Linked DNA regions of Homo sapiens. The protein of the gene in region 3 purifies or fractionates together with the protein of the main gene of each other region. This does not show direct contact. Each region holds a gene or a part of one and is shown on either strand. Other genes may lie near its edges. The genes, in order: SMARCA5, TWF1, MYO1C and BAZ1B.

Region 1 (7,349 bases), on a different chromosome or scaffold from region 3:
TTCATTAATGATGCACAAATCTATGCTAGGCAATATATGCTATAATAAAACTATCTGTGACCAAAAAGTTGTGGGGAGGAGATCTGGTACGGTACTGGAATAGAAGGTAAAATGACCTTAAGTCAAGTCTAACTTCATTGTTAAGACCCTTGGCACTTGTGTGACCCTATGTTCATCATAAATCTCTGGTCTACATATGTAAGTGACAAAGCCACCTACCCAGTCCAGTTTACAAAATTCCAAAATGCCATGAAATGCAACCTACAAAAATAAAATGTGCTTCAGGCATCTTGACATCACATTATTGGTATACAGGTGACTATTTAATCAATCTAGTCAATAGAGATGAGGATGAACACAGAAGAGTTCCACACTGCCAAAAGGATAACTAAAAAACAAGTGCTCCATTGACCTATTAGTATCAAGCAAAAAGAAAAAAAGTAACTGAATACATAGGAAGGCTATTTCTGGGAAAATCAGCTTTGTCACCAAAAAAAAAAAAAAAAAAAAATTCATGAATGCTGGGTTTACTCTGTTTAGAAAAACACCTTAGATCATACTTCCAAACAAGAAAAAGTCATTTATAAAATATTCATTTTCCAAGTGCAAAACAGATTAAGTTGTGACATATATATTAAGCATGTGTGCTCAAACTTAGTTTATATCATGAATTGCAGTAATTCTGAATTTTGTTAAACAGGAAACTGACATTTTAAAAGACAAAAAAAAAAATCACACTATAATGTCAACCAAAAAAAAAATGTGTCAGTGATAAGATGGATAAAAAAATAAAATTCCTAATATTTCTATACTAGGAAGGTAAAAATAACAATGTTATTCAATAAATTGAACCGCCAAATATGTTTTTTTTGGTAAGAACATGGCAGAGCAAGATGGGTGGGAAACGGCTCACTTTTAAAGGCAGATCCGAGTTTTATTACAGGTTCTACCTAGTAGAACTCAATTTCCCCATCTGGCAAATGAAAATATCACTAATTTAATACGGTAGTGATAACATCTATACTCACGTTTGAACTTAAAATCAATTTTCATTTAAAATAGCAACTTCAAGTCAAAAATGTTGACTTGCTTTAGGCTTAAAATTACTCTGCATTCAGATATTAATAAGACCTCTGGTGAAACATTCATTTTTCCAAAGTTTGGATGGCAGACCCCTTTGAGAAGCTGAGGAAAAACTATAAACAATTTTTGTAGAGAACTGCACATTTACACATAATTGCTTTGTGTCAAACCCCTTAAGCCTTGGAACAGAAATCCAAGTTAAAGAGCCCTAGTAACCCAAAAGAACCATTTCCTTAAGGAAAAAAAAGCAACACTGAATATATTTTAATTTGGAAGTAATCTTATCTTAATCACTCAAAACTACAGGAACTATCAGGAGTTCCTATGTCACTAAACCTACCCTCACCACTAAAAGTTCTTTAAATGATTACTAACATTAATGTTACTTAACCCCAGCTACCCAAATATAACTACTGTGCCAAAAGCCTCAATGGTAAATTACGCTACCATTTTCTTACTGTATAATGATTCTGCATCAAGACTCATCTTCGGAGCAGTATTACTTTCATTCTGTCTAAGGATAGGAAAATCCCAGAAATCTTTGGGCTCCGACTCACAAAATATCTCAAAACAGGTCGAAGGCCAAGAAAATAAAAATTGGAAGGAGCAATTACTTTGTTCCCAGATGCAAAGCCTGGAAGCATATCCAATTTACCCGCCTGGCAGCTTCCCCCATCTTTCCAGCCCCCTCAGTACTGTCAGCATCCCCTGCCCAACCCAAACCCATAAGTCTCGGCAGCGAGTGGTACTAATTTTTTTTTTTCTTAAGGCCAGAGGCCAAAAAGAGAAAAGTGCCGGACTGAGAGCCAACCAACTGCGCCTGGTTCTCTAATTCATTCCTACACTTATTCATCCCCCCTAAATTAGACGGGGGATCCGAGACAGCTGCTGCTGCCTTGGTTGCTTCCCTTCCAGTGGAATAGTGCCTGGGAGGGGCCTTCTCTCCCTTCACAGAAGCAGCTGCGCCCCGCTTATCCCCACTGCGCACTCGGCCATCCAGCTCTCGCCATTGTTTCTGCCCACAACAGATACCGCCCCTGCAAGGACCGGGAAGAAGAAAAGGAGGCCCAAGTCCTCGGACGCGCTGCTTTTAAATGCCTCCTTCACCCCGCCCGTGCATCCCGCTCCTAAGGGGTCATCTCCTCGCCCTTCCCCGAAGTTTGGTGGAAACTAAAAACCACATTCAGAGGTAGGAGAGGGAATTATGGGAGTCTAGTGGGAAAAAAACGATGGGTCCCCCGGGCCACGGTAACCAAGAACATCTGTTCACTGAGAGCGTTCAAATATTTGTCAGGATTCACGAAAGAGACAAATAATTTAAATGTGAGGAGCCAGAAATCCATTTTGCTTAGCTCGAATAGGGTAAGAACAAGGGAGCAAGAGTGAGAGCATCATTTCGTATCCACAGGGTGTGAAGCTGAGTCTGGTGCAGAGAGAGAAACCCGGCTCTGCGTCCGATCGCCACGATCCGGCGAGGGAGCCAGCTCCTCCTCCCCGCTGCACCCGCTCCCCATGCCGCAAGTCGCCCTCACCTCCATCTCGGCGTCTGCGGGACCAGCGCTGGCCGCAGACGCAACCGCCTGCGCCGCGACGCCTTCGGGGCCGCCTTTGTTGCTGCTGTTGCTCCCGCCGCTGGCGATCGAGGCTGCGGGCTTGGAAGGCGCGCTCTCGGGAGGCGGGGGTGGCGGAGGCTCGGCCGCGGACGACATGATGTTCCGTCTGCGTCACCCGCTGCTGCCAGAGGCCCGAGTCCGGCGGGGATGGACGGGGAGGCCTAGGCCTGGATGCTACGTCGCAATAAACTGGTGGAGGAGCGAGACTCCCACCCGAGCGCTCCCCTGCGCCGCGCCTCCGCGACGGGCCTGAGCCGGGCCCAGGAGCTGCACACTCCCAAACGTTCTGCTCTTCCGCGGGGCTCTAGGTTCCACCGGCGCTTACCTCACGGCGGGAATCACGTCGACGAGGGTGGGCGGGGCCAGACGGGTCACTGAGGTCAAGGAAGGCCGGCTGATTTAGAGAAGGGCGGAGGGTTGGGGGAAGGGAAAAGGAAAACGAAAGAGAGACTGAGGCTGGGAAAACGCTTCGCCGCCTCCTCCTCTTCCTCTGGAAGATAACATCTATCTCGCCAGCATCCAGGACGACGACCTACGCCACCGACTTTCAACACTCGCGAGATTCCTTATTGGCTCACTGACTGGGTCCTGAGCGCGCATGCGCATACTGCCCTCCTCACCCTTGGCCCGCCCTCTTCCAGATCTCTAGCCGGCTCGGGAGAGAAGAGTGGGCGGGACCTCCAGGGAGCGCTCGGAGGTGTAGGTTTGTGCGCCTGCTGCTTGGCAGGACGCGAGCTCAGTGTTTTAGGCTTTCGTAACGGCTCACGGTTCTCGCTGTGTCTTCTGTGCCTGACAGGGGTTGGCGGCACTACCGGAAAACTTGTCTGGGTTTTGCGCTGCCCATTCAAACTTGGAAGTCTTGTGTCTGGCCCCAAAACTTCTGCCGTATCCGCTTAGAGGCGTGACGCCACAGCCTTGACGACGTTATGGTTACCCCAAGTGAAGTCTCACGGTTTTTTGTTGTTAGAAAAAAAAAAAAAGTCCGTTAGTGTGATTTTTTTCTTTTTTCTTTTTTTTTTTTTTTGCCTTCTCATGTTAGCTGCGTCGGTTATTTCTAAATACCCTCCTTAGGCACAGAGTTAAATGATATTTCTTCTGAATTTATATGCCAAAGTTAAGCAAATAACGTGCACACTACCATGGAAGTGAGAAACACGAATAATCAATATATGGGGAAGATAGGTGGTGCGATGTAATCTTTTCCCCAAGCATCAAACATGAAAATTAAAACGTACATTCTCCTTAAGTGTTAACAAATATTCAGCACTGATTTTGTATACTGCCTTAGGCAGCCTTCAATGCAGCTTAAGGGCCTTGTGCATTCATCGCCTACAAAATTTAAATACATTGTAGTCTGTTTGATAACGAATCTGCATACTACAGTAGATTACCTGCCCAGTACAGGGTCTTTTTTATCTTTTTTTATTCCTCATATTCAGTATTCTCTAAATGTTTGTTGAGTAAAGGAGACACATTTTTCGAGAGTTGAGGTTTGAGCTAACTGGTTATGTTGAATTCCAAACAGAAGGGATCCCCTTTGAATATATAGCCTGCAAATTTTTTAACTAATGGAATGATAATTCTTAAATGGACATCTGGAAAAATGTCCCCACTCCACTAGAAATGCTAGTTCTTAGACTATAAGGAAATGTCTAAGGATATATGCAAAGATGAATACCTACAATGATGTTCATCATAGTCTTCATATATGACTGCAAAAAGCTAACAACAGTAGGCTGAATCCAGTATTAAAAGTTAGGTGTTTAAAACTGTCATACACCCAGAAAATGAACTATTAACCTTTAACAACCATTAATGTAGAATAATGGTTGTTTTGTGTTGTTTTGTTTTCAGACAGTTTCTGTCGCCCAGGCTGCAGTGCGGTGGCATGATCTCAGCTCACTGCAATCTCCAACTCCCAGGTTCAAAGGATTCTCATGACTTAGCCTCCGGAGTAGCTGGAATTACAGGCGTGCACCACCACGCCTGGCTAATTTTTGTATTTTCAGTAGAGACAGGGTTTTGCTGTTTTGGCCAGGCTAGTCTCAAACTCCTGGTCTCAAGTGATCTGCTCGCCTAGGCCTCCTAAAGTGCTGGGGTTACAGGCGTGAGCCACCGCACCTAGCCAAAGAATGTTAATTTATAAAGTGTTAACTGAAAAATTTGGTTTAACAGTTCAAAAATGTAGATAAAAGTTGGAAGCATATTTACAAAAGTATTGAAACTGATCGTTGCTGGTTTTTTGTTTTTGTTTGTTTGTTTGTTTGTTTTTTGACAGTGGCTTGCCCTGTCTCCTAGGCTGCAGTGCAGTGTCACAGTCGTGACTCACTGCAGCCTCAGCCTCCTGGGGTCCAGCAATTCTCCCACCTCAGCCTCCCAAGTAGCTGGGACTACAGGTGCATGCCACCAAGCCCAGCTAATTTTTGTATTTTTTGGGTGTAGACAGGGATCGCCATGTTGCCCATACTGGTCCTGAACAACAATTAGGGCTCAAGCCATCTACCTGCCTCAGTCTCTTAAAGTGATGGGATTACAGGTGACAGCCACTGTGCCAGGCTGCCGAATTTGCCTATTATTGTATTAAGAAAACTTTTTTTAAAAAAATTTCAGCTTTACTGAGGTATAATTCACAAAATTGTATATATTTAAGGCATACAATGTGATGTTTTGATATATAAACACGTTGTGAAATGATTACCGCAATCAAGCTAATAAGCATATACATCACCTCTTATATTTACTGCCTGCCAGCATGGTGAGAACATTTAAGATTTACTCTCAACAAATTTCAACTATGCAAACAGTATTATTAACAATAGTTACCATGCTGTGCATTACATCTCCAGAAATTATTCATCTTGTATAACCAAAACTTTGTATCCTTTGACCAACATCTCCCCATTTTTAGAAAGCTTATTTTTAATTTTAAAAAATGTTCTTTCACCGAAAAAAAATTATGTGGAAGGGTAAGAAAGTGGTGTCTAGGGTGGAACCTGACACATACTTAATAAATACTTGATGAATAATATTTTTATATTTACATTAAATAGACTAAAACATTAATTTAGCATTCGAAATGTTTCTTCACTTTTTATAGTCTTAGGTAGAAATCTTGGGTCTTGGTCTGGAAACCCTAAAGTTATATGTAGGTATATAAATGAAAGGATCTTAAGTCTGATAACTATTTAAGGAAAGCAATAAATAGCAAGGAAAACAATGCACATAAATAAATAAAAATTGCCTCCAAAATGGCGATTGTCTTTTAACATGTGCATTTACATGTGAGTTTCTCATATGATCATATGAAAGCTGTATTAGAATCATTCGGGGGAAAATTATAGAGAAAAGATGGAAACTAGCAAGAGGACACAGAATGCTCGAACTCAGTTATCTAGCATAAGTGACAGAGAAAAAGATTTTTGGCAGAGTTTAGAACCAGAAAGGAAAAGCAGAGAAGAGCTACAGAAAAGACATGAAGCCTAGAAACAGCTACAGGGACATTAGCTGTGTTCCTCAGGCAGATAGCAATACTAATATGGTGGCCAAATCACAAAATCCTGCTAAAAGGCTAAAACTAGCAGCTAGTTGTTGAATTGATCACATAATACAGAATTCATGTGTTGGTAAAAGAGTGGGTTGGGGAGCAGGCAAGCCTAGATTCCAGTGCAGGCTCTGGAACTTAGTAGCTGTGTGAATGCAGACAAGTTATCTAACCTCTTTGAAATCAATTTTCTCATCTTTTTATTATTATATTTTCCTAGCTTTATTTTGAGATAATATTATGATGTCATAAAAATTAAATGAGACAGTATAAGGTACATGATACAGTGCCTGACATATAGTGAGTTCTGGGTTCAAGTGTTAGTCTTATCCTTGAGAATCATAAGCCTAAGGTTTAGAGTCTAGTTGAAAGAAGAGGAACCAAAGAAGGAGGAGGGTAAGGGGTTTGGTAGCAAGAAAACACCAGAAAGGATTAGAGCTTTAGTCGTATTCCCAGCAACAGAATGCTACAGTGTAAAATAATGTTAGTGTTCTATCTCCAATATGTATATACATAGTTTACACCTAAAATTTCCTCTGTTAGATTTAATGTGCTAGAACAGCAAGTACAGTACAGAAATACAATGGAACAAAGAGATGTTGCCAGAGGACAAAAATGTGCCGAAGAGCCAGGGCTCTCTCAGCATTGTGTCCTTGAATGGTAACAGAAAGGAGTTAAAGTTTTCTCAAGGACAAAGAAGAAATGCAACACCTCTCTTCATTGCAACTCATTTTGTCAAAGCTTAAGAAAATAAAGTCTGATTACTGCAAGACAATAAAACTGTATTGAGTTTGTATCTAAGAATGGGTATTTCCAACACCAGATACCAATGATTACATGTTGTATGTATCTTTTTTAGAGTTCTCCCACATAGGTCATTTGTCAATGTACAGAGATTTCAGTTAAAGAGAAACATTAACTGTACTGTTAATAAACAGGTAAGGATATATTCCCTTCATTCCCCTCATATTTAGTCACCAACTAAATAGTGGGAGACTTTGTGTCTGCTCGGTATATATGCATATGTTTATGTAGTCAAAGTTTTTCAGGTTTTCTCTGCATTTCTTCCTGCTCATGAAAAAATAATTTCTTTTTTGTTGGGCTGGTTCTAG
Region 2 (7,607 bases), on a different chromosome or scaffold from region 3:
CTGCACAAGTATCAGAACTCCCAATTGTAGTTGCCCCAGGGTAAGGAGGTCAGAAGCAAAATTGTTTAAAGGGGATGCTCTTATACCAGAAAAACACTGAATTTTCTAAAATGCTTGAAGTAAATAAGATAAAATGTTAGCAGTTATTAATAAAGGGGAGATATAGGTATTTATGATACAATTTTAGTCTTTGGAATTTTCCTTATTTAAAAATTTTCACAAAACAAAAAAGTAAAACCAGAAAATAATAACTTAGGAAGTAGTGCCATTTTCCTTCCGTAGAGATGCTAGTTAGATTAACTTTTCCATTTTAGTTCCTTAACTAGTCACTTAGGAAGTGATGGCATTAAAAATTTTAGCTCAGTATTTTTAAAATATGCTGTTTTACAATATACATATATTCCTATTGAATGTTGTATGTAAACAAATGCATATTTTACAAACTATTCTGGTATTTTTTATATAAGCAGAAAATAGAAAACAAATTAGATTTACTTCCAGTTTGTGAAAGAACAAGTTACTTTTCCAAAGCAAAATATTTTCAGATATTTAAGAAATTAGGCCACTGGAATATTTTAATATATTCATTTATGACTGAGTACCTATAACAATAATTGTTCAAATTCAAATCTGCCTGATTTAAAAGATTCTCCCACTCAACCAGATTCCCTGTTTACAGAATTATTTTTAAAGAATCAATTTGTAGTTTGTTATATTCTCAGAACTTTCCCAAAACAAGAAAGGGAAATGATCATTTCTGTGGCAAAGGTTGCAATCAAATGGAGAAAATGGGAGTTTGATATCCTTTGTTTATATTTAAAAACAAACTTAATTGAATAATTCACAAGTAACTATTTTTTTTTTTTGATAATCACCTGTTTAGTGATTTCCATTCCAGAGATGGAAGCACTGACATTAGAAATGGACTGTGGTGCAGAAACTGAGACACAAAAAGTAAAAGAGGAAGAAGTCACATCAAAAAACATCTTTCTGTTTCCCTGATAGTCACATAATTCAGAATGAAATTAGGGGCCCATAGGGACCTGCACAAAATATGAGGAATCCAAGTTACCGTAAGATTTGAACTTGCTTCATATTAATTAATAGTTCAAATCACTGACAACACACAGTAAGTTTAAAAATACAACAGCCACTAATCCAGGAACAGAAAATATTTTAAAATATTTAACTAACCATTTTCAATAGATATTTTCAGAAGTCTGTACTTTCCATTTCTGGCTCTGGCAAAGATCTCTTTAACATCTTCACTTGCTGTGGAAAAAGATAAAGAAAGTAAACTTTTTATACTTACATATAAATACTTTCCTATCTATATTGGAAAAGTTAATTAGAATACAAAGAAAAAATCTGGAGCATGTAGCATCCTTATTATCAGTATTATAAAACTTTACCGCATAAAATAACGAAGACTGTATACAATTAAGAAATATAAATATTAGCATTTTAAAAGTATGTTAATAATTCTAATCTGTTTTAGCTACATAATTCTGTGCAGAAATAACACTGGGGTGAATATACTGAAGTTACTCAAACCCAATAATGAGCAAATTACAATTTTGAAAAACTTTTCTTGCTCTTTTGAAAAATATTGAAAACCTGCTTTCATTCTCTAATTCAGTTTCAAGCTTATGACAGACACTCCTTCATCAATTCACTTTCTGTATTTTCCCGTTAAAAACAACAGTATATATCAAATATCCTAACTTGTTTAAAGAAAAAGACAATAAAATGCATTCAGTCTTAACTCTGGTTATATTTTTCTAACTTGCATTTCTCAAAAGCTAGATTAAACTCATTGAATAAATATGTATTTAATAACTAACCCTTGTGTTCCTATTAAAGCTTCAATTTCGTTCTAATTTCGTTCCTGTGTTGTCTATTAGCAGCAAGAACCACTATGTAAGTAGGTAGTGCTTGCTATAAGGCTCAAGCATGAGAGTCAATAACTACATATTTATATATCGAAATTAATGCGGATAAATAAAACAAAGTTTTCAGATTTGAGACTATTTTGCTTCTGCGTGCGTGCAGGGGGATGTGTGCGGTGGTGTCAAAAATCTTTACGAATAAAACATACAATTAAGTGTTCATCTGGGAGAAAGACTCGCTATTAACAGTAAGAGCTTGAGTTTACACTAGAACTCGTTAAGTGATCGCGAGTAACCCGGGGATATATTATTTGACTCTTGATGAGGTGAGTACCTGCAGGCTGCCCAATTTCAAACCAGGAAATAATGGAGGTCAGATATAACTGCATATTGAACTGTCTGCACGCATTACATGCAACCATACAGATCAGTTTCCCTTGGGGAGTATCTAGGAAAAAGATCAAAACACACGCTTACACTCGAGATTTCTCAGAACATAACTCTCATTTTCCTATTTGGAGAGAAAATGCGGGAGAGTTTTGGGAAGCACCCCTACTGATGTGAGAAAGATTCTGGCATGGTTCTTTTTGTAATCAAAGTCCTGTAATATTCTCCTTTGGACCATGAAAAAGAAAACTCGCCTGGTTCTCGACAGCGTACTGAAGCCCCAGTCGCCTCCACTGTCCCAGCTCTTCCCTACGTGACCAAAAGGGGGAAAGTTGGGCGACTGTCGGGGACGGTGGAAGGCACGCCCCCTTCAACCAGGCCGCCTCGAAAGCCAATTTCCTTCGCTCCCCCGAATTTCGGATCAATCTGCAACGTGACGGCAGCAGGGACCGGGCTGGAGGAGGACGCAGGCCGGCAGCGCCCGGGAAGCAGGAGCGCGGAGAGGCGCCGAGGCCCGGCTCGCCCCGCGAGACCGACTTCCGGAGCTCCCGGCCCGACTCCAGCCCTGCCGGTCCTGCAGCCCTCCCGGCTCTCCCGGCTCTCCCGGAAGCCCCTTCCCTGCGAGTCGCGCCGGGCGCTGTTACCTTGGATGCCGGTCTGGTGGGACATGGCGGCGGCCGCTAGCTCCCGGCTCCGGCGCTGAGTGCAGCCAGCGGCCCCGGCCGGCGGCCCCAGGAAGTGGCTGCTCCTCCGCCGGCCCCGGCGCGTCATCCGCCCGCGACCCGCGGCCGCCCCGCCCCGTGAGGTTGACTGAGTGCCCGAGCGTCCCCGCCGCCCCGCCGCCCTTCCTGGCCGCCGGGCTGCGGTCCAGCCCCCGGCCTCGCTATCCTAGTTCTCTGCTTGGGGTCCTGCTTCTGCTCTTGCCGCCGCCTCTCCCGCTTCTTCCGGGGGGGACATGCCGCAGAATCTAGACTGCTCAGTGCTCCGACGTCTGCTCTCTGACAACCCCGCCGACGCCGCCATTCGCTGCCTCAGCAAAGGGGTGCTCAAAAACGGAAGTGATCATTTTACCAAATAGGCATTTTCCAGCTTAAAAAAGATGTGCACATTATTTTTCTTGGTTTACTCTTCCTATAATCGATACCGTTTAGTGTAGAAAAGCCTTCTCCTTGCTCCATTGTTTTGAAAGAATTAATATAGACTGCCTCTCATCAAATTTTTCCACGATTTTAAATTAAGTTAATCTCAGACTGTTAACTTTTCTTTTCAGCTGGACACATTTAGAGACTCAGTGTATCTTTCTCTTCACTCCGGAAAGAGACAGCCACTAAGAGATTAGCTGATTTGAGTATCCCTCTGTGGTCGATTATACCATTGCAAATCCTGCTCTGCTTTAGGTTGGCAGTTTATTATTTAATCCAGTAATTATTCAAAATTCACTTGGACAGATTTGTAAGGTAGCAGCAGATATTACTTAAAAATCTTTTCCTTTCCTGCTTTTACAAACATGTAGTTCCTTCCTGAAAGGTAATGTTAGTTTTGTGGGGGGTTTGGTTTTTTTTTGGTACTGCTTCTCTACTGCTACTAGGTGGGAAGCTAGTTCTTATTTTTAGGGCCTTGAAGTGACACATACACAAAATTATAATCTGCTAATGAAGAAATAATTTATTCAGGTCAATAATATAAGTGCAAGTTAATCACTGTTCCAGTACTATACGATGTATTTTTCATGAGTGATGAACAGGCCTGCAATTGTTTTTCTTTACAAGAATCACAGCAAACAAGGTTATGTTCTATTGCCTGTTATCTGAGCTCTGTTTTTCAGACATATTCTCATATTCAGGAATAAACTAAATCTGAGTTTTATGACTTGTATGGATTTAAGAAATGTAGGGAGGAGTTTCATTCTAATCAAATTCTTCCTGACACAATGGTTCACCCTGATTTACCAGTTTTTGACTACATTGCTGAGCAGAGAGAAAATTGCAGAGTTGACTTGCAGTATTTTGACTGATTCATGTCCTAGTGCTTCGGGGAAATTGCTTAAGGAAGTTGGCGTTGCTCAAAAGTATAGTTGAGCAAAATATAATCCTTCCATATTCGTGCTTGGGAAAGGCCACTGTATTCTCAGTCCTGAAGAAGAGGAATGTCTAGTTAGGTTGGGACCACCCTGACAGCCACCAGAAAGTGCTTATTTACTGCCAGTACAATAGTTTGACTTAAAAGCTGCAAGCGTCTTGGGTACCTTGCTCTGCTCTAGCCACAAATATTTTCCCACTTTTCTTCATCTATTGTGTCTCCATTTAGTGAACATTTGCCAGAGCTGTCATGAGAATAATACCTTAGATTTGTATGGTAGTTTACAGTTTACAAATAATATATAATAGACTTATTTTGAGTACCAACATCCTGTGTGACGAGCTGAAAAAAATAGCAGGTTTTGTTTTTTAACTTTAAGAGGTTTGGAAATTGAACCACAGAGTTGGGAAGTCAGCAGGTTTCAAGGCTAAGACAAGTGTCTGTAAGAAACAAACCATTTGAAAACAATGTATGCAGATAAGAGGGTTTATTATAAGGATATTGGAGGATCTTATAGATCTTGACAACTTGGTTGTCACCTCTGCTTTTCTCTTCTTTTTCTCCAAATAAGATCTCTCTGCTTGTGCAGTCAAAATGGCTGAATATGGCTACCCTACACTTTCCAAATTGACAGGGTTGTAGCTGCATGCAGAGATTACATAGCTCTTCTAAGTCCAAGTTTAAAGTTCCTAAGAGAAAGCACGTGAATGACCCTGCTTGGCTTGTGTCAAATCATTCTTGGCCAAGGTGGCTGGTTTACCCAATATACACTGCCCATGAGTGAAAGGCAATTATCACAGGAGGGGAGATGGATCTTGGGTGTGGGAAACAGGTGTAGAATTCCTACTTTTTACAGTTTGGTAGAGGTAATGTTTAGAACCTAAGATGGTGGTCACAAAACACAAATGCTTATGGGGTCAGTTAAATAACATAAATGAATGAAGCTAATAAATGGAGACTGTGGCAATGAGAGGGAGCACAGGATCCATCTAAAATGAGCTACTACTAGGCCAAGTGGGATGGCTGACACCTGTAGTCCCAGCTCTCAGGAGGCTGATGTGGGAGGATCACTTGAGTCCAGGAGGTAGAGGCTGCAATGAGCCATGATCACCCCACTACACTCCAGCCTGGGCAACAGACCCTGTCTCAAAGGGGAGAAAAAAAAAAAAAAAAAAAAAAAGGAGCTACTACTACTCAATTCAATTCTGACTGACTGATGCTCTGTGGGAATTCAAGCGCAAGGTGACCAATCTTATGTTTTGCAAGTGATGTCGGAAACTGGGATTTTATGTAAAATCTCTATTTCAATTATGTAGGAAAACAAAACAAAAAGAGAACTATAACTGCAAGTCAGGTTTGACCTATGAAATGGTAGTTTAGGACTTCTGACCTAGATCATCTGTGTGGTCAATTGCCAAATAATGACATTTTAAAATCACAGCGTCCATAAAGTCTTTTTACCATAGAAGAGACTATGATGCGTGCCACATTAATGTGAGCAGTATACATGTTTGTGTATAGTGCATATACACAGGAAACTAAAAAAATCATTCATCCATCCATCTTGTTTCTTCTCTGAATTGAAACCTTTTTGATAGATTCATTTCTTCTTTACTTGGTGAGGTAATTATAAAGAGCTGCACTATTTGCGTTAGATTTTCCTAGAGAAGAAACCCTGCTGTAAAATTTTTAAAAACACATAGAAGTTGTATGACCATGAACAACATTATTTAACCTAAGTCTCCATTTTCTCTCTTGTTATATGTCATACCCATGTCTCATGGTTGTCATGAAAATCAAGTGAAATATGACTTTATGAAGCTCTAACATGTATGAATGCTCAATGTATGTTAGGCTTCATATTTTGTTAGAATTAAGTCTAACACAATACATTACAATACAGTATGATTCAAAATAAAAGGTCATTTAAAACAGAGCAAATGGAGTTAGATTGAATTTCCAAACCTCAAAAGCAACAATCCAAAGTTGATTTCTTATATAGGTTCATAAAACCACAATATCGCTGGGCCCTGTGAACTGCTGTGTTTTGTGTAACACGTCCTTAGATTTATAAAGCATTAAATAAGAAAAGTAACCCTTTGGGTTATAAAAAATGAGGATCAAGAATTAAGCAACATACCTTGACTGAAATTAACTTTTATTATATGCATGTAATTATAACCCTCAACAATTCACAATAAACACCTGACAAGATTGCTAAAACTCCTCACGAAATGGAATATATAAGATAAAATTCTTTCATTCCTATCGGACTCAGTGGTGCTTGAGAAAACAGAACAGAGAGTCTGGGTTAAGGAATAGTTCAAGCAAATGATATTTCTTTATTATTTTCCCAAGTAAAATATAGACTGAAGTAATATTAATAAATGATACGTACTTTCCAATGAAAGAAACAGGGAACACTTTGGTTCAAAAGAATTGTTGATAATGATAAGGATGCATATTGGAATCAAAGTGCAGGAAAGCACAAAGCAACCAGCTTTTTGATGTATTATTTATAGTGAGATTTTCACCCTGGGTTGGAAAAGTGCCTTAGCAACAGCATCTTGAATCTCTTTCTCATTATCTCTAACATGTCATGTGGGGTAGGATGGTTTAAATGCCTAATAGGAATATTTGCAAATCACTTTGAACATACTGCTTGCTCTCTTTCTCTGTTTCTCTGTCTTTGCTAGTGATGCTAATTAACACCCAAAAACCTTCCCTAACGTTTAAATAGCATGTACAGGAGATATTATCTCATACTGAGTCCACAAACGGGGACAACCTTCCTTGTCCTTTATGTATTTCTGTAATCGCAACACAGGCCACTCCAGACTTTCCATATTAGATAAATTTAGGGCTGGAATCTGCAATCTGGTGGGAAGATGGTGCAAGGGGAACTGTGAGCTGAGCTTGCATAGCAGGGTTTGTTTGTTTTGTTCAGATCTGCTGTATTTTTTAAAATAAATTCAAGAAAGGCATTCATAGCAAACTGACAAGCAGGGCGAGAGGGCAGGGATGCTCAGTGAGATTATGGGAGAGTTAAAGCTCCTTCACTTCCAGCCTAAACTACTCTTTGGAGCTGCCTGAAAATCATAGCCTCATGGTTGGGATCCAAAACAGATTAACCCTTTCACTAAGCGCTGCTCCATAACAAATACTTTATCATAAAGCTTCAATGTATCTGTTATGTTTTTTCAGAATAGGCTAGGTCAGTATGGTGACCTTTATTTAGGGGTGTGCCAATGA
Region 3 (7,192 bases):
GTGTCAAACAAACAAAGAAACAAAGCAATAAACCCATAACATGTTAACATAAATTTGTATGGGGGAAAAAAAAAAGTAAACGGCCCAGGAGCGGTGGCTCATGCCTGTAATCCCAGCACTTTGGGAGGCCAAGGCAGGCAAGATCACTTGAGGTCAGGAGTTCCAGACCAGCCTGGCCCACATGGTGAAACCCTGTTTCAACTAAAAATACAAAAAATTAGCAGGGTGTGGTGGCACACGCTTGTAATCCCAGCTACTTGGGAGGCTGAGACAGGAGAACTGCTTGAATCCTGGAGGAAGAGGTTGCAGAGAGCTGAGATCATGCCACTGCACTCCAGACTGAGTGACAGAGACACTGTCTCAAAAAAAAAAAAAAAAAAAGAGGGCCTTTGACCCCTAACCTGTACTCCCTGTTTAATGTCCTTGTAGAGAGAAGGGTGGCACTGTTTGAGCTGGTCATCACAGCCTGGCATTAACAGGCCTGCTCTCCTGCCTCCACTCCTCACACCAAGTAGTCACGACCTGCTAAAACCTCACCTCCAGGCCGGGCGCGGTGGCTCAGGCCTGTAATCCCAGCACTTTGGTAGGCCTAGGCAGGTGGATCACAAGGTCAGGAGATTGAGACCATCCTGGCTAACACGGTGAAACCCCGTCTCTACTAAAAAAAAAAAAAAATTAGCTGGGCGCGGTGGCACACACCTGTAATCCCAGCTACTCAGGAGGCTGAGGCAGGAGAATAGCTTGAACCCGGCAGGTGGAGGTTGCAGTGAGCAGAGGTCGCACCACTGCATTCCATCCTGGGCAACAGAGCGAGACTCCATCTCAAAACAAAACAAAACAACAACAAAAACAAACAAAAACCTCACCTCCATCACTGCTCCTTACCTGGGCCAAGACAGCAGCCTAACTGGCCTCCTTGCCTTCCTCCTACCAATCCATTTCCTCTGGGGCAACACAAATCAAATCAACACCTCATGTTCATAGAGTGAAGGTTTAGGACACCCTCCATATGCCAGGCCCATGATTCACACTCACTGCTGCTTACCAGGACCCTGCCTATGAACTCCCGAGACCCCCCTGCTGTCCCCAGTTTACCCCACTGCTCCTGCATTCCGATGTGCCAGATGGCCCGCTCCAGTCCCCTCTCCCCCCACCCCTCCCCCCAGGAGGGGGCCTTCGCACCGTCGCCAGCCAGTCCAAGCTTCAGTGCCTGCACCTGCGGCTTCCCCAGCCCGGGGCACTCTCCCTGCCCACCTCACTGAGACTCGGCTCAGGTGTCACCTCCTCCAGAACCCCTTCCTGATTCTCCCAAACACGCAGCGCCTCCTTATCGCACCCCGCAGGAATCAGCTGTTTCCTTGTCAGTCCCTCCCAGGAGACGGCTCCCACTCCCTACACGCAGCGAGGCACACGGTGGGGCTCAGTCACCCCTTCCCGGACCCCTGGATGAATGAATGAATCTCAGAGCCAGGCGTGTGCGCGGGAGGCCGGAGCGTGAGGACTGAGGGCCGCGTGGCCATCCTCCTTCTCCGGCCACCCCGGAGCCCCCCGCCCGTCACACTCGGGGCGCGCTGGGCCCCAGGGGCGGAGAACGGGAAGGGGCGGGTTTAGGCGGCTTCTCCGGAACCCAGAGGCGGAGCAGGGCTGCGGGCGGGGCCCGAAGGGCGCGCAGGGTCCTGGGTCCTGCAGCCCAGGCCGCTCTTCCCCGCCTCCCGCTCCCCGCAGGTAAATCTAAGTCTCCACCAGGCTGCGCCGGCGCCTCCGGGTCGTGGGACCCCCCCCCCCCGCACGGGTCCACGCGGCCGTTCTTCGGCCCCAGCGATCCCCGGCCGTGACCCCTGCCTCGTGCACGGCGGCTCCCGGCCCGGCCGCCCGCTCCCCACACCCGCCCCCCGCGGCCGCCGTCCCCGCGCCCCGAGTACCCACCGGCGTGGCTCTTCCGGCGCGGGCGGGGCCGGGCTGGGCGGCGTGGCGGGCTTGGGGATCCGCGGCCCGGGCGCACTCTCCCCGCCCAGGGCCCGCCGGGGGCCGGGCCGCAGCCTGTCGTCATCCCGGGCAGGGCCGCGCACCCTCCGGCCCCGCCCCGCCCCGCCTCAGCCCCGGCCGCGTCCGCGAAGCCTCGGTGCGTGCGGCCCCCGCCTCGGCCCGTTCCCGGGGCCACAGCGAACACGCGCGCGCCCCTCCGGCCGAAGACCCGGCTCCCCGCCGCGCTGCTGGGGGCGTGGGGGCGCCCGACTTTCTCCCTCCTCCGGGCCCTTTGCATCTCCAGCCCCTTCCTGCGGGCCGGGCCAGGGCCGCGCTCCCCCGTTTCTACCCACCCGTGACCCTTCACCCACCTCCCACACCGTCCTTCTGTTCTGAGTCTTGGGCGGTCCCAGCCCTGCGGACTGGAGAGGAGCGGGGCGTTGACTGAGCCTGGAGCTTCCATGCCCTGGTCCTTCGACCTCACAGCAGCCGGCACTTGCCTTTTGTGCCCAGTATTCACGGTTCTGCCCACTGAGGTTCGGGAAGCCGGGGAAGAGTCAAGCCCAGACCTCCACTTCCAAAAATCCTGCTGCTAGTGGCCCTTGCATCCTTACTCTTCCACTCACCCCGTCTTGTTCAGTCTGTTCTGGCCCCGCCAAGGATCGGAACCCCTCCCCGCTGCTCAGCTCTTGCCCGAGGGCTCGCCTGAGAGGGGCTGCCCGGCCTTGGGGAGACGCTCCCACCCTCCTCCCAGCCCAGAGCATCCCAGCTTACAAGCTTGCAGGGCCTGTGGGGATGAACCACGCGGATGATCTCCCCGGTGGGTACCAGCTCCACTTGCAGCGCCATTCCGCCCTGCGGAGAGCCAGCGGCCTGGGCACCGCGGCCTGTGAGCAAGAGCTGCCTGCCCACTGGCGGGCTCCGACCACTCCGGGACCAGGAACCTACGGTCTAACGCCGGGATGGCCACTTGGTTCTGCTTCAACTGCAGCCCCAGGGGATGTGGCTGGTCCAGCTCCTCAGGACACGGCTGGAGCCGTCCAGGTCTGACTGGGAGGCCTCTTGGCCCGGATGGTTGGAGCAGGAAGAGGAGGGGCTGGGGATGGAGGAAATGCCTGTTGTCCCAGGTAACCAGAGGAGCCGATGCAGCCACCCATGGGGGACCCTGGGCTCCAGGTCAAAGGCTAGGACGCCTTTCCCCTTCCCCCCATCCCCACGGCAGCTCTATGGCTGGGCCCCTCCTCCTGCCCACTCTCTGGTACCACCTAGAGAGCACGGGGCCCACTCCCCAAACCAGACGGCATGCCCTCCCCTAGGCCAAGAGGACCCGTTAGTAGGCACTGGCTTTCCTGCACATCCCCTCAACGGGGCTGCCCCCCACAGCAGGTGAGCCCCCACCATGAGTTTGAGAGACCAGGGCTGCTGGGGCCTGGTCATGCAGGGCCCGGACAGGGGGCTGTCCCGCTGTGAGGAAGCTCTTGGCTTACCCTCCTCTGAGCCTCAGAGCTTGTGAGGTTAGTTCCTGGGTTCCCTGGGTGTGGGCAACCTCTAGCCCTGTTCATCCCTTGCGTTTCAACAGTACCCCCAGGTGACCCCCACCCCTGATGTTCCTGCTTTTCTATTTTTATTGTTGCTAAATCACAGCTGACACTTTCCTGGCCTGAGACTGAGCCCTCCAGTCTCCAGCCATTCCTTATAGGAAGTAAGAACAGGGAAGTGGATAGGGGAAACAGACCTTTCCAGAGGGAGAGGCTGGCATAGGAAGGGCTGAGTCCCGTGGGTGTGTGCTGGCACCGACAGCCCCATAGGCAGGGGCCTTCCCCCCGGCACCCTTCTCTCTCCCCACAGCTTCCCCCGCCCCGGAAAAGCTAGCAAGCCTTCCTTCCTTCCTCCGGGAAGCACATCTATCCAGAGCAGGCTCATCCCCGGCGGCCACACAATGGCCCTTATCAGCCGTGGAGCCAGGCGTAGACCCAGTGCACACCAGGTCTCACTTATTTCCTGTTTCCACCCAGTGGGTCGGGGTGGACCCAGAACGGCCATATCCTGACTGGGGCCCAGAGGACGGAGAGCACCCCCCATTCCCCTTTCCGCCTCTCAATCACTGCTGGGCTCACCCCTCCCACACAGGAGGCTGGGTGTGTGGCGACCTCAGTTCACCACGGGGGAGGTGAGCATGTGGGGGGACCCCTGGGGTCAAGCCCCGGGGCCGCATTAATCAGAACGGGGAGGCGGGTCTAGTGCGATACACTTTCTGCAATTGTTCTCCCACAGTAATCTTGAGAATAGGGACATCATCTGTATTTTACAGACTACTGAGACCGCTCTGCGGGTGGGTTCAGACCCCATTCCTGTTTCTGGTCCTGTGGGAAACCACAGGTGCCTGGAACTTTGAAGAGACTGTACCACTTCTCTGAGCCTTGGCTTTCCCATCTGCCCAATGAAGGGTGCCATGCAGTAACCCTCGTGATGGCTGTGCATGTGAGAAGGAACAGGTGGGCAAGTGAGGGCTTTGGAGGTCCCTAGGTATATGTGTTGGGGGCAGGGATAGGTTACCATGGGGGAAAACTCAGCAAGAAGGGGCTGAGGAGAAGTGGGGCAGAAAGAGAAGATGGTGGCATTCTGGACTGGTTAACGCAGGCAGAAGGCTCAACACCAGGGTATGCAGAGCAGCGGGTCAGGAGGGATGAACAAGAGCTCATTTGACTTAACAGAGTACATTAAGCGGCCACCGGCATAGATGGCATGCTCCACCTGGTTAGGGCCCCAGAGGCTCACCATTCTAGAACCTCATCCTAGCCCCAGTCCTGGCCACTTCTGCAAATCTCAGACACAGAAGTCTAGTTGGGATCTACAGGGTCCCTGTTCCTGGAATCTACAGCTAGTCCCAGGCCCATCACCGTACCCCCACCCCCCAATCATCAGTCACACGCAAGTGTAAAAGCCACGCTAATAATTACCCCTGCACAATGTAACAGTCACAAAACAGCCAGCCATGGCCTGCTGGAAGCCAGGGGACAATTCTTCATACACAGGCTTGCGGGGGAGAGTATGCAACACAGAGCAACTGGAGTAACCCTCAGTCCCAGGACACAGGATGGCAGGACAAGCACTGAGCAGGCTCCCAGAGGTGTCTTCTCCTGGGAAAAGGGCTGCCGAGTGACCATGGCGGAGGCAAGTGCTGGATGTGGGGACAGGCCATGTCCCCAAAGCCCCTAGAGGGTGTTCTCTGAAGAACCCCAGGGCCAGATCCTCCAAAATGTCTTGAGCTGGTTCTCCCTTCTGCCTGCCCCCACTCTGAGGTCCCGGGGGGTCCAGGGGGGGCCCGTCGTCAATGGCTCCTGACAAGGGTGGCACAGACGCACCTCACCTGCCAAGGACCACCCTGGAAAAGTCTGTGGCCACAGCTCCTTGACCACTTGTCACCCCTTCCTCAGATGGCAGGGTGGAGGCATGGGACTCAAGCTACCAACGGAAGCGAACCTGGATCCTTCCCAGTTCTCTCTGTCAGGATCTGGAACTTCCATGCAGTCAGACTCCATGCCGTGAGTAGGGAGGAAGGTTGTGCTGGCCGAAGGACCCTCATCAACCTGCTCATAACCATGGCGTAAGAGCCTGGCTAGAGGGGCCCCTCCATTCTGCCCACTGAGTCAGACTGCTTTTGCTGAAAGCAGAAATCCCAGACCCTCTGCTCACTCCTCACGGGGACAAGCTATGAGATGCCAAGACTCCTGGAATCCAGCACTGCTTGCACCAGTCTATGTAGCCTGTACAAATGTGAGCATCTCCCCTCCCAGACAGCCTGAGGCCCAGGACGGCACGACAAGAATGCAGGCCTGTGCCAAATGGGGCATGTGCCTGGCAGGACTACTTGGGCAAGACTAGAAGAGGGGGTAGGAATCCAGAAATGAGACGCAGAACTGTCCCCAGGTCTTCACTGTTGACACACTAGCTGGTTTCACTCACATCTCAGCAACAAAAACCTGTATTTAAGCGGCTAATTCCAGAGATGAGTAGTGGAGAGAGCAAATGAGCCTGGTTAGAGCTCACTCTGGGAGGAGTATGTGGACGACACTTGGCTGTCTCTTCAGGGGGCCAGGCTGGGCCCCCAGCACTCCCGGCAGTGGAAAGGCAGAGCTGGCTGCCAGCTCTGGCCTCCGCCTGGGATTCACTCCCATCCTGGCTCAGATCTGTGGCTGTGCTTCACCCAGTGGGTCCTCCCTCAAGGAGCCAGGCGGGATCTGCAGGGATAAAGCAGGTGGTGGAAATGGAGAGCGGGTCTTCCTCCGTGCTTTCCATCACCCCCGTTCCTGCACTGCAGCGGCCCCTCATGTACCGGCTGGCTCCCAGGCCTGGGCCTCAGGGAGCCAGTGATGAGCTCAAGCCCTCACCCTTCCCCTTCCCTCACCAGCACTGCTTACCTGGAAGGGTCTGCTTATCCCCACCACAGAACGCAGACTGTTGCTGTAGTAACAGAGGAGAAACTCATCTTCAGTGGTAGGGATATTGCTGATGTCGATGTAAACCTGGAGGGGGATGGACAGGACTGGGGTCAGCTCCAGGGCTCTGGGCTCCACCCAGCTCTGAGTGACAAGTTATTCAGCACTCTGTTCCTTCCACAAGACAGGAGTGCTGAGGCAGGCCTGCCTGCTGGTGATGTACCTGGTGCTGGTGACGTACCTGGTTCAGGTTGTCGCTGCAGGAGACCTTGCTGTCCCCGACCCAGGCATAGGACACGTAGTCATTAACGTCCCGCAGCCCCACCTGTGAGGGGGAGTCAGGCCATCAGTGGTCAGGGAGGACATGGGACCTAAGGCAAGTCCTAAGGAAGAGATGGTCTCCCTGCTGGGCCTGGCTACCGTACTGTGTGCCTCCCCGCCGCCCTTCACTGCCAGCCTTTAGCTACAGAAGAACCGCTGGGGTGGATGAGGGTGAGTTCGTCAGCATCTGCCCAGCTCCCAGGAGCCCTCGGGAAGGATGAACCAGGGGCTGTCGCTGATGGACTTCCTGCCTTGCCACCACATCACCTTGTACAGTCCAATCCAGTCCCACGGGCTGCTGGGGAAGTCCGAGGTTGAAGAGTAGCTGACCATCATGTCATTTTCCACGGTCCACAGGTCCTCGGGCATCAGGACGATCAGCGGAGCAGACACCAATGGCTTCAGCTAGACACGGGGGTGGGAAGGGGGCTGAATCTCGCAGCATCATTCCCTCCTCTGAGGCCAAG
Region 4 (7,040 bases), on a different chromosome or scaffold from region 3:
AATATAAGTTGAGAACTGGGAATACTACTTCAAAGGCAGCTGTTACCTAACCACATATTTGTTCTCCTCTATGAAACCACTAATAGCCTAATAAAGAAATATGCCAATCTGCCAACCATACAGTACAATTGTTTAAAAACCATCCTCAAAGTGCTTCCACTTGCAGAAATTCCCGAAAGAGCAATTTCCCCCCAATATATAATATGTTTTAAGACTTCTTTTGTTAAAACAGTTTTAAATGCTGTTATGGGAAATTAAAAAATGAAGAATGTTTATTAAATACATACCACTTAAAATGTTTCCGGTTTCAGTTTTAAATTGTTACCATCAAAACTCTTCATATATATATTTCAATTTCATTCATTCAATAATATGAAAAAGCCTGCGTTGCCAGTCCTAAATTAACTTCCTACAGCCATTTTTTACATAGCTCAGTACCTGAAATATACTTAGAAATTGTCTCTTCTCTATGGCATGTTTCTTATACTCTGCTAGAACCAGACCTGAGAAAGTATCATCTGAAAGTGTGTGAGCATCCATCAACGGCTCAAAACATTAATGACATTGGAAAAGTATATGTCGGATTCTCACAAGTTGCTACTCCACTGCCGATTCGAATGTATTAAAAAGTAGGGTACTGGCCAGGCGCGGTGGCTCACGCCTGTTAATCCCAGTACTTTGGGAGGCCGAGATGGGCGGATCACCTGAGGTCAGGAGTTTGAGACCAGCCTGGCCAACATGGTAAAACCCCATCTCTACTAAAAACACAAAAAGTTAGCCGGGCGTGGTGGCACGCGCCTGTAATCCTAGCTACTCAGGAGGCTGAGGCAGGAGAATCACTTGAACCCTGGAGGCGGAGATGGCAGTGAGCCCAGATCGTGCCACTGCACTGCCACCTGGGTTAACAAGAGGGAAACTCCGTCTCAAAAAAAAAAAAAAAAAAAAGTGGGGTACTTCGGTATAATGCAGTATTTGGTAGAGCTAGTGGAACTTCTCCAGAACATTCCAAGTCTTCACAGGACAAGAAAAAAACCAGATCACCACCCCTCCACTTTAAAGTGCCTTACCTTATACCATAATGACAAAAAAGTGAGGTAATATTTAAATTAATTGAAAGTGAAGGAGTAACATTCCACCTTCTTCTGTTGATTGACTTACAGGGATGAGGTAGGAAGAGCGGTGGATTCTACTCCTCTTTCATCATTTGACCTTCAACAAGTCAACCTCCACTCTCTGGGCCAACTCAGCAAACCAAGCCCGAGGACCCGACCACCTCCAAGATCCACTTCAGCTCCAAGATGCTACAGCTCTATTTCTCCAAGAGCCTTCCTCCAGCATGGACTGATTTTCCAGGCCCCTTTGTGTGTATACTCCCCACAAAGGGACACTCACAAATTGCACTCCAACAAGAATGAGATTATCCTCTAAAGTACTGCGTTAAAGTGAGGATCAGGGAGAAATGAAATAACTCTGAGAGACACTTCCTCCTATACAGAAGCAAGCAAGAAACTGAGAAATGAAGTCCTTCCGAACAGAAGGGGCTGAGAAAACTCATAACACATTAGCCTTCACTCTTAAAGCTTTCAGTCACCAAAGAAATGCTTGATTCCGAAATCGTTTTTGTTTTTTTTACAGATAAGCCTCAAAAACGATTCTTCTGGCACCCATTAAAAAAAAGCAAATAAAAGCTGCACAACTTTTCACTAAAAGATAATGCTTATGCAAGAAATCTTAGTCATGACGAGAGGATGCTTCCTTTGTAAAACATCCAATTTCATGTTCCTAAAATACAACATAAAAACTTCACGTCTTGGTTTTTTTGTTTGTTTAATTTTAACAAATACCAATCTCCTTCTAAACCTTCAAAATTTCAAACCTGTGTCTGCCCAGGGAAGGCAGGCATCAGCTCCTCCACAGGCAGTTTCCTTCCCTCCCTTTCCTCTAAGCGGGGAATCTCATTCCTAGTTTTCTGCCCCAGGGTCCTGTCAGTTCATCCCCGGCCTAAAGTCCCCTCGGGAGACGAAAAAAACGCCAAGTATCCCCGCAGAGATCGGGGTAAGACGCAGTTGAGTCTTGCACACGCCGCATCACGAGGCCGCGCGAGTACAATTTCAAAACTTAAGCTGCAGGTTTCATTTAAATTTTTAAAAAATTTTTGTAAAAATTAAAGGAGAAAACCTAGCTCCCCCTCCCCACGCCTCCTCCTCCCTCTCGGGTCCTCAAGGCCTAAAGCCAACCCGGGGAAGGTAATGGGGATGGGGGATGCGCTCCTCGCCGGCGAGGCCCCGGGACAAAGTGCGGGGCCCCGGGGGCGGCCGAAGCGGGCCCTTCTCCTTCCAGGGCCGGTGCGCGCCCCCCGCCGGATCCCCTGGAAGGATCGGCGGGCGCAGGCTGAGACTCAGCCTCCAGGCCCGCGAGCGGCCGGGGCGCGCTGACAGCTGCCCCGGGCCGGGGATGCGCGGCTGACCTGGTCTCGCGAGCCCCAGGCCCTACCCCGGCCCAGCCCGGCCCAGCCCGGCCCGCGCGGCTGGAAAAGGATACTCCCGGGTGCGGAAGGCCTCCTGAGTGTGCGGGATGGTGAAGAGCGGCTCCTCTCCGGGCAACGGCTTCACCAGCGGGAAGGGCTTGCGGCCCAGGAGCGGCGCCATCGCGGCGGCGGCGGTGGGGACTGGCGGCTGCTGGGGCCGGCCCCGCGGCGCAGCACTAGGCCCCGCGGCCCGGAGCGAGCGCCAGGCGCCCGGGGGTGGGGTGGGGGAAGGGAGGGGTGAGAGGGCGGCGCGAACTCCGGCTCCCTCACCGCCGGCGCGGCCGCGCGACAGTCATGGAGCGGAACGCCACGGCGCAGAGCTCCCGCGCACACCGCCGCGCCTCCCAGCAGCCCCCCGCCGACCTCCGCTTCGGGTCCCGGCGGCCGGCAGTCACGACTCCTCCTCAGCAGCACCGGAGGAAATTATTGAAAAATGGCGGGAGATTCCCCTCCTCCCCCGGGCCCGGCCAACGCACACACTAACTTGCTCCCCCGTGGCGCCGGTGGCGAATGCTCCAATAGGCGGAGAGCTGGTCAGCGCTCACAGCCTATTGGCTCGGAGGAGCTGCCGCTCCGCGCCTGGGTCCCGCCCCCCTGCCCCTGTCGCGTAGTTGGGTTGCAGCGCACTAGAGGGCAGTCTGAAGAGGTGAAAGGTCACGTTATGTAAGCGCCCGTGATAGGCGTGCGGGCCTCCGACGGCAGAGTTAAAAGTGGGGGACAGCGGGGGATGGAGAGGACGAGAACTCAAAGAGGTCAAGCCGGAGAAGCCCCTCGCATATACAGATACTGCGCCATCTGTCACCGACGGCGACACCGACATCCGGGCACCACTGTCCGTGTGGTGCGCCGGAGGGGGAGGGTGAGCGCGCGGCCAGGGGCTTTGTCTTTCCTCTTGGGCGCCTCCCCCTTCTTAAAGGCGCCGTGCTCGGCCACGCCCGGGGATGCGCGGGTGGGGCTGGGCTGCAGGGAGGGGTTGGCGGGAAGTGGCCCCGGGAGCTTACCCTACCAAAGGTTCTGCGGAAGGACAACGTGGGGGCCAGCTTTGCTCACCCCAGAGTTAACTTCTGGGCGGGAGTGTGGTTGAGATCTGGGTAGAAGTATACTGCTTGTTTCTAGGGGCTGGCTGGAAAGTAGAATATAGAAGCTTCTTTGGAGAAATAGATTAAAAGACGTACTTAGTTTTTTGGTTTTTGGTTTTTGTTTTTTTTGAGACGGAGTCTCGCTCTGTCGCCCAGGCTGGAGGGCAATGGCGCGATATCGGCTCACCGCAACCTCCGCCTCCCGGGTTCAAGAGATTCTCCTGCCTCAGCCTCCCAAGTAGCTGGAATTACTGGCGTGCACCACCACGCCCGGCCAATTTTGTATTATTAGTAGAGACGGGGCTTCTCCATGTTGGTCAGGCTGGTCTCAAACTCCCGACTTCAGGTGATCCGACCGCCTAGGCCTCCCAAAATTATCATTATTTTTTTTTTTGAGACGGAGTTTCACTCTTGTTGCCCAGGCTGGAGTGCAGTGGTGCAGTCTCGGCTCACTGCAACCTCTCCCTCCCGGGTTCAAGCTATTCTCTTGCCTCGGCCTCCCGAGTAGCTGGGACTACAGGTGCGCGCCACCACACCCGGCTATTTTTTGTATTTTGTAGAGACGGGGTTTCACCATGTTGGTCAGGCTGGTCTCGGACTCCTGATCTCAGGTGATCCACCCGCCTCGGCCTCCCAAAGTGTTGGGATTACAGGCGTGAGCCACCACGCCCTGCCAGAGCTGTGACTCTGGCTTTTTTTTTTTTTCTCCCATGATACTCAGCACCTGGCTCGGAACATTGTAGGTGCTAGTGAATACTATTTGAATGAATTGGATCTACCTTTTATTTTTTATTTTTTTTGTAGAGACAGGGTCTTACTTTGTTGCCCAGACTGGTCTCGAACTCTTGGCCTCAAGCAATTGTCCCGCCTCTGCCTCCCAAAGTGCTGAGATTAGGCGTGACCCACTGTGCCCAGCCAGGATGTCTCTTTAATAGGTACGTCTGGGCCGGGCGCAGTGGCTCACCCCTGTAATCCCAGCACTTTGGGAGGCCGAGGCGGGCGGATCACGGGGTCAGGAGATGGAGACCATCCTGGCTAACACGGTGAAACCCCGTCTCTACTAAAAATACAAAAAATTAGCCAGGCGTGGTGGCGGGTGCCTGTAGTCCCAGCTACTGGGAAGCTGAGGCAGAATGGCGTGAACCCGGGAGGTGGAGCTTGGAGTGAGCGGAGATCGTGCCACTGCACTCCAGCCTGGGCGACAGAGCGAGACTCCGTCTCAGGGAGGCGGGGGGGGGGGGGAAATAGGTACGTTTGGTCGGGCACGATGGCTCACGCCTGTAATCCCAGCATTTTGGGAGGCTGAGGCGGGCGCCTCACCTGAGCTCGGGAGTTCGAAACCAGCCTGAGCACCATGGAGAAACCCTGTCTCTACTAAAAATACAAAATTAGCCGGGCGTGGTGGCGCATGCCTGTAATCCCAGCTATTCGAGAGGCTGAGGCAGGAGAATCGCTTGAATCCGAGAGGGGGTGGTTGCGGTGAGCCGAGTTTGTGCTATTGCGCTCCAGCCTGGGCAACAAGAGCAAAACTCCGTCTCAAAAATTATAATAATAATCACAGTTCTATACAAAGTGCAGAATAAGAAAATAGCATCAACTATTTTAATGCTATTAAATGGGGAGCATTTCAGTTGCTTCTCCAAGCAGACAACACCCACATCCAGAATTTGTTTGGCTTTCCAGTACAATCAAAAACACACTCATTAAGTTATCTCCCTATTAAACTGTCTCCCTTAGTTTAAAGAACTTCACTTTAAAGTTTCCCAGCCTGTACCTTCCCAGCTGTACCTTCCCAGCCTGTCCTTCAACGGGGCTAGACTGCGAGGTGTCTCTAAATGCAGTCTCCTAATGTCAGACCTCTATCTCCTTTTCTTCTCACCTCAAGGATCTCCTATCCCCACTAGGAGGTCTAGGTCAAAAGCTACCTCTGTGAAGTTTCCTCTGATCACCTAGCAGAAAAGATCTCGGTTCCTTTTCCTTGAGGCAGTAGACTTTTCTCCCAAGAACAGCAGGAGAAGCCTTGCCAGAGCACATAGCGTTTGAGTTAATTGAGAAAAGAAAAGAGTTCTCTAGACAGAGAAGGAGGGACGAACATTATAGACAGAACAGCAGAGTGAAGCCTGGAAGTTCAAGATCGTGTGCCCAAAATGTGAGGATTTGAGGCAGAATATATCAGATGAGAATGGTAAAGGAAGTGACCATCCTGATATATTCTGTAATGGCTGAATCGGAGTGACTACTTAGAAGGGAATTACAGGGCTAGGCATGGTGGCTCACACCTGTAATCTCAGCACTTTGGGAGGCTGAGGAGAGAGGATACTTTGCGGCCAAGAGTTTGAGACAAGTCTAGGCAACATGGCAAAACCCCGTCTCTGCTAAAAATACAAAAATCAGCCGGGCGTGGTGGCGCATACCTGTAATCCCAGCTACTTGGGAGGCTGAGGCAGGAGAATTGCTTGAACCCGGGAGGCAGAGGTTGCAGTGAGCTGAGATGGTGCCCAGTCTGGGCGATAAAGCGAAATTCCATCTCAAAAAAAAAAAAAAAAAAGCAAAAGAAAACAATTTGATATTTCAGAACAGCATCTCACTTTGCACATGTGAACTGGGCACCATAATCATTTCAGCGCTTGGGTCCGCTGTGGGCTAGAATCCATTGCTGGGATTGGTGAAGATGGGATCTGAGATGGGAAAATCGGTAATGGGCTTGGTTTCAGCCATGTGAACTCCAGGTACCCTGAAGAGCCATCCAGAACACAGCCGGAAATTCTGAGGGAGGAAGTGGGAGCTGGAGGTGGGGCTTGGTGGTCACAGTACAGAAACTTGAGCTTCAGGAACCATATAGAGCTTATGAAGAGACCCCAAATAAAGAACAGTGCTCATCTCGGGGAAATGGATTTATGGTTTTTGCGTTTTGTCTCATTTTGAGACAAGATCTTGCACTGTCGCCCAGGCTGGAGTGAGTGCAGTGGGGGATCACAGCTCACTGCAACCTCGACCTCCTGGACTCAAGATCCTCAGCCTCCAGAGTAGCTGGGACTACAGGCACACACCACCATGTCCTGCTAAGTATTTTCTTTTTTGTAGAGACGGTGACGGGGATGGGGTCTCACTGTGTTGCCCAGGCTGGCCTCAAGCCCCTGGCCTCAAGGTTTCCTCCCTCCTCAGCCTGTCAAAGTGCTGGGATTACAGGCATAAGCCACCGCACCAGGCCTGGAATTACAATTTTTTTTCTTTTCTTTTTTTTCACCCCTCCTTTTTCACTGGAATTACAATTGATGTGATTTTCTTCTTTATATTTTTCTATATTTTATGATTATGTTTTTATAATGACTACATTATTAGTTTGTTTTTGAGATAGGGTCTCACTCTGTTGCCCAGGCTGGAGTGCAGTTGCACAATCTCAACTCACTGCAACGTCCACCTCCCAGGCTCAA

What was found.
Region 1: the proteins of MYO1C (region 3) and SMARCA5 purify together in Homo sapiens (affinity purification with western blotting; 3 studies listed by BioGRID, with this or other methods). This does not show direct contact.
Region 2: the proteins of MYO1C (region 3) and TWF1 purify together in Homo sapiens (affinity purification with mass spectrometry; 2 studies listed by BioGRID and IntAct, with this or other methods). This does not show direct contact.
Region 4: the proteins of MYO1C (region 3) and BAZ1B purify together in Homo sapiens (affinity purification with western blotting; 3 studies listed by BioGRID, with this or other methods). This does not show direct contact.

Annotation. Positions count from the first base shown.
Region 1 is NC_000004.12:143,509,368-143,516,716, reverse strand, and holds the start of SMARCA5 (SWI/SNF-related matrix-associated actin-dependent regulator of chromatin subfamily A member 5), read right to left. Parts: upstream 3,016-7,349; 5' UTR 2,793-3,015; coding exon 2,616-2,792; exon of another isoform or gene 2,492-2,615; intron 2,273-2,491; exon of another isoform or gene 1,880-2,272; intron 1-1,879. UniProt on the Homo sapiens protein: ATPase that possesses intrinsic ATP-dependent nucleosome-remodeling activity.
Region 2 is NC_000012.12:43,803,301-43,810,907, forward strand, and holds the start of TWF1 (twinfilin-1), read right to left. Parts: upstream 3,018-7,607; 5' UTR 2,946-3,017; coding exon 2,921-2,945; exon of another isoform or gene 2,531-2,920; intron 1,273-2,530; coding exon 1,195-1,272; intron 941-1,194; exon of another isoform or gene 876-940; intron 1-875. UniProt on the Homo sapiens protein: Actin-binding protein involved in motile and morphological processes. Inhibits actin polymerization, likely by sequestering G-actin. By capping the barbed ends of filaments, it also regulates motility.
Region 3 is NC_000017.11:1,489,674-1,496,865, forward strand, and holds the start of MYO1C (unconventional myosin-Ic), read right to left. Parts: upstream 3,014-7,192; 5' UTR 2,815-3,013; coding exon 2,740-2,814; intron 2,007-2,739; exon of another isoform or gene 1,927-2,006; intron 1,273-1,926; exon of another isoform or gene 1,255-1,272; intron 1-1,254. Other genes in the region: INPP5K (inositol polyphosphate 5-phosphatase K), read right to left, coding at 6,150-6,206, 6,387-6,491, 6,646-6,729, 6,993-7,130.
Region 4 is NC_000007.14:73,519,286-73,526,325, forward strand, and holds the start of BAZ1B (tyrosine-protein kinase BAZ1B), read right to left. Parts: upstream 3,009-7,040; 5' UTR 2,649-3,008; coding exon 2,542-2,648; intron 1-2,541. UniProt on the Homo sapiens protein: Atypical tyrosine-protein kinase that plays a central role in chromatin remodeling and acts as a transcription regulator. Involved in DNA damage response by phosphorylating 'Tyr-142' of histone H2AX (H2AXY142ph).